Regions from separate parts of the Homo sapiens genome. Here region 1 is linked to region 2. Evidence: fine-mapped expression QTL. A gene starts in region 2. The other region holds a variant in brackets. All regions are shown on one strand. Distances are between the middles of the regions. Region 1 overlaps UIMC1 (ubiquitin interaction motif containing 1). Region 2 holds the start of NSD1 (nuclear receptor binding SET domain protein 1).

Region 1 (2,500 bases), 200 kb after region 2:
ATCCAGTGGTCTCTGTTCAACAGATGGCCTCTTCTTAAGGGACAAGCAAAATGGCTGCCAGCAGCCATAGCTTTTAATGGAAAGAAAGAATTTTTTTTTCCCTCAGACCATAGGTTAGTCTAGAGGAAGACTCTGATAGGCCTTTCTTGATTGAAGTGTCCACTTACGGTGTAGTCACTGTAACCAAGTAGATGGGTACAAGTCAGAACAAGTAAAGGAAAACCCTTTTACTAACTATGAGAAATTCTGTTAGTATCTGTCAGAAAATTCTGTAAGTCACAATAACAGAAAACATCATTAACAGTGGGTTTAACACGTGGGATTTCTTTCTCCTCACGTCACAAGTCCAGAGTGAGGCAGTTGGCTCATTGACATAATTGAGGATCAGGCTTTTGCCTTTGGTGCTACAGTCATAAACTTGTGGCTTGATTCACGGTTTCAAGATACCCGTTGCATCTCTAGGCTTCTCATGTATGTTTGAGGCAGGAAGACGGAGAAAACGTAAAGGGACATGACTGCTTACTCTGACTCCTTTGATCTAATACTCATTCCTGCATTCTCATGGAATTTGAGCTTATTCTAAATTATGGTTGAATTAAGGCAGTTCTAAATTTAGTGTTTGTTCATACCTCTAAAGTGTTTATATGTCTTTTTCTATATAAAATTATTTTATCTCTAAAGTCATTGATTAATTGCTTTTTATAGTGGTTCACCTTAAGATTTTTTCATATCCTGCTGTTAGTGAAATATTGTGCTGGATGCTGAGGGTAGGGAGGAGGGGCCTAAAAGACCCAAAAGATGGTAAGGGATATAATACAGATCTGAATAGGATCTCAAATTTATACTCAGAGAGTTTACAGTCCAGCAAGGGAAACAGACTTGGGTATGACTATGTATAGTACAACTCAGTCGAAATGCTAAGATGTAAGCACTAACCACCCACAAAGGAAGGTATTAAATCTGATTGGTGATTGGTGGAGTAAGGGAGGGCTTCTTGCTTAATTGTTCCCCTAATATTGGGCATGACTTTTTTTAACCTATTTTTTTTTCTATTAAAGATAAACATCTAGGGTCAGTCATGGTAGTTCACACCTGTAATCCAAGCACATTGGGACGCTGAGGTGGGAGGATCAGTTAAAGCCAGGAGTTCAAGACCAGCCTGAGCAACATAGGAAGACACTATCTCTGCAAAAAA[T/A]AAAAAATTAGCTTTGTGTGGTGGTACATGCCTGTAGTCCCAGTTACTTCGGAGGCTGAGGTGGGAAGATCACTTGAGCCCAGGAGTTGGAGGCTACAGTGAGCTGTGATTGTGATTGCACCACTCCACTCCAGCCTGAGTGACTGAGCAAGACCCTGTCTCAAAAAAAGAAAAAAAAAAAAATCTAAACTAGCAATGAGCCTTGTAATGTAGTTCTTTAATATGGATTACTAAAAGTGTAATTACTAGATTATATGTATAAAGTTACCAGTAGCTTATGAGAGCATTCCTTTTGCCTCCAAATACTGAGGGATATTCTTTTAAAAAATATATGGCATAGTAATAGATAGTAACCAATGGCATTTCATTGTACTTCATGTTTCTTTGATTAGTAGTGAAGTTGACATTTTTTGTTTTTTAAAAAGTCAATTTATATTTCTTCTTCGAAGAAGAATTCTCTGAAGTTTGCCTCAGTGTCTGTTGGGATCTCAGTATTGTTCTTATAGTTTATACAAGTTCTTTATAAGTGATTTACTTTTTGCCTCGAAGGTGCTTTCCAGGGTTTGTTTCACTCACCCGTCAGTTCTCACAAAATTTCCAGATTTATGCAGCCTGGGCCAGCAGCCCCCTTCTTGTGTGAACACTGCCAAAGCTTTTATTTCTTGAAGTAGAAGCAGTGCTGATCCTGCAGAAAGGTCTAATCGGTGTGAACAGAAGTGGCACTGATGTGGGGAAAAGAGTATTCAAATCCATGTGGAATTGAGAGGGTGGGTGGGCAGCAAGTAGAAAGGATAAAGAAGTCATTGCCTCCATGCTGTTCCATTCCTGTAAAAAAAAAAAAAAAAAAAAAAAGCATTGCTATTGCTGACTGGATGAAGAAGCTAGAGATAGAATGAAGAGGAGGTGCGGCCTGGTCACCGGGGGTCAGCAGGGGCTGGATGCCCAAAGTATTAGGTTTAAAGGAACTGGGATGTATCTCCAGAGCAACTGGGAATTTAAAAAGGTACCTTCTTCCACTGAATAGAAAAGTAATAGAAATGAAACCAACGAGTGAAATACATGTATTTTGCTATATTTATTCTTTCTGGTAGGTTGCAAGAGCAAGCACTTTCCCTCCCAGTATTAGGATTCGGCTGATACATATCTGGGATTCTGCTGATGTTTGTCTGTCTGTCTGTCTGTCTGTCTATCTGTCTATCTATCTATATCTGTCTCCTGTTTTTATATTTGCCGCCCCCCCGTATTACATCATAAACGTCATCTAACATGCCGTTTGAAATTATTTATATTCATGACATTGCTTAT
Region 2 (2,500 bases):
CTCTTTTTCCTCCTCTGTAGACTGGTGGACACTTGGGATGAACTAAAATTAAAACCCCTCTGCCCGTCAAAATTCCCAATTCTCAAACAGGACTAGTCCTCCCCCTCCCTCGCCAGGGGTCGAGCAGCTGGATCTCTCAAAAGCAAAAGGCTGCGGGGTCCGAGGGGGGCTCCTGGACCCTGCACAAAAAGGTACCCCCCCCTTCCTGGCTCGCTAGGGCGCAGCGGTCACAATAGCGCTGCACCCTGCGCCCAGCCAGCGCCGGAGCCTTTGCAGCGGCGGTGCGCAGGCCGCAGGCGAGCCGGCCGAGGCGGCTGCACCCCAGAGCTCGCCTTCCTGAATGCAGGCCTGCTGGATCCGCAGCTGCAGGGCGAAGAGGCCTGGACCCGGCAGAGGGAGAAACCGAGGCGGCCAGCGAAGCCCAGTCAGGGTAGCAGCAGCTGCTACAGCTCGAAAAACATGGCTGCTGCCGACGCCGCCGCCGCCTGCCCGGGCCGCGCTCCTTCCCGCAGCCGCGGCAGCACCTCCCAGCCGAGCCGATCGCTCTCATCAATATTCAGCAGCAAGCAAAGTTTGCTGCGGGAGGGCAGCCGGCCCCGCGCCCCGCAGCCTGCTACCTGAGGGGAGGCGGAGGCCGAGGTGTTCGCAGGCGGCCGGCGGGGCACGGGCCGCGCCGGGAGGAAGTTCGCGGCAGCCCGGCCAGCTAGGCCTGAGCCCGGCTGGTAGTGATGGAGGAGGGGGAGGGGGAGGAGGCCGGCGGCTGCAGCGCCGCCGGCCACCAACCCCGCATCGCGCCTGGCCCTCCCCCGAGCCCCTCACCTTACGGCCACCACCATCTTCCCCGCCCGGCCACCCTCCTCCCTCCCTTCTCCTCGCGCCTGCCCGCCGCCCACCCCAGCGCACTAGTTACCGTGCCCCGCGCCCCCTCCCGGGCCAGCTGGGGGGAGGGGGTGACCCTCATTACACTGGGGTGCGAGCGGAGCGGTGGGGAGAGAGCGGGGCCGCTCGCCGCACCCCCCTCCCCCCGCGTCTCTCTTCAGGGGAGAAGGCAGCGAGCGCGACCTGCCCCGGCCTATTCCGCCGCCGCCTCCTCCTCCTCACACCCCCACCGCGCGCGCCCCCGCGGCCGCGCGTGCGACCGAGCGCCTCGCGCCGGCCCGCGTGCGGCTGGGCCCCGAGTGCGCGCGCACCCCTTCCCCCACCGAGCGCGCGCGTTCCCTTCTCTCACTCTTCGGGGTTCAGGGCGGGTGAAGTCGGGCTTGTGAGAGCGCCGCCCAATCAGCGGAGCTGCCGCTGCCGCCCCCTCCCCTCCCCCTGCGCGCCCGCTCGCGGCCGGGGCCTACGGGCCGGCCCGGCTGCCCGGGCGGGGCCTGAGGCGGGCTCCCCAGGGGCCTCGCGCGCCTCCTTGGAGTGTCGGGGCCTGCGGGCGTCGTGGGTGGCATTCCGATCCCCTCACCTACCTCGGGGCACGGCGCTGGCCTCGGGCCGCACACGGCTCCCGCACCCTACGCGTCTCGAACCCCAACCCAGGCGGCACCTGGCGCGGCTGAGGCCTGTCCGATCGTCCCGCCAGCCCTGCTCGGGCCCGCGTCAGTCCCGGCCTCCATCTTAGGTTACAGCCCAGGCTCCCCATCCACTGGGCACCTGCCCTCAGCCCGCTGGGTTCGGCCCGAGGCCAAGGCAACCCCCCTCCTGCCGCAGGGCTCACCTGGGGGCTTGGGCTGGGGTCTTCGAGGCCTCAGGCCCCGAGCAGACGCGGCCGCAGGCGAACCCCCTACCCGGCCGCACCCCAAACCCACACCACCACCACCACCACCACCACAGACCAAGCTGAGCAGGAAACAAAATGGAGGCAGCAGCTCGGGTCTGCCTCCCTGAGCCAAGCCTGTGCAGCCCCAGGGCTCCCTCCTGTCTCAGGCTCGACGCCCGCGAGGCAGAGGCTGGATCGTCCCGGGTGCCGCGGGCAGCCGCCCTACAGCAGCGCAGACGGGCCGGGGACTCGGCCCTGCGGTGCCCACAGCCCCTCACCCACCACCCCTTCCCTTCCCCCTCCCCCCATCCCTCTCCCTCCCCTTGCCGGGCCGTGCGGGGTGAGCGGCTCTGGGGAGCCGGGTCGGGTTACCCGCCCCGGCACTGCTCGCCCGGCCGTGGCCTCCGCGGGGGAACGAAGCCAGGCGACCCCAGCGCTGAGCCCACCCCCGGCACCGAGCCGGGCTGCAGCCTGACAGCGCGTCCGCACCTCGGCCTGCAGCCGTGCGGCCCCCGCCCAGGGAGGCCGAGTCCCCAGCCCGGGCCCAGCCGGGACGAAGCTCCCTCACCACCCCCGAGCCCAGGGGTCCTCGCAGCCTCGGGCGGGGCGAGGGGAACGCCGGGGGAGGGGGTCCTCTAGTCCCTGCACCGCCTCCCGCGCCTAGTCAAGGTCTGGGCCTGGCACGGGGGCTCGGGCAGCGGGCGCCGGCCGGCGTGGGTATGTGCGTGCGCGCCGGGCTGGGGGCCGGGA

The links. PIP is the estimated chance that this variant, and not a neighbour inherited with it, causes the effect.
Region 1: its variant is the best candidate, but not a certain one, in a credible set for the expression of NSD1 in neutrophils (BLUEPRINT, PIP 0.81).

Annotation. Positions count from the first base shown.
Region 1 is chr5:176,932,406-176,934,905 of GRCh38, reverse strand. The region is part of intron 10 of UIMC1 (ubiquitin interaction motif containing 1); the gene reads left to right. Among named protein-coding and RNA genes, the nearest start is that of HK3, 34 kb to the right of the region's middle. The variant T/A (reference allele first, on the strand shown) is at 1,196.
Region 2 is chr5:177,132,363-177,134,862 of GRCh38, reverse strand. NSD1 (nuclear receptor binding SET domain protein 1) reads right to left here and starts at 1,090. Exons shown (of 23, transcript NM_022455.5): 1 at 911-1,090. RefSeq lists enhancers at 1-441, 442-993, 994-1,547, 1,761-2,055, 1,548-2,099 and silencers at 455-754, 815-974, 1,055-1,724.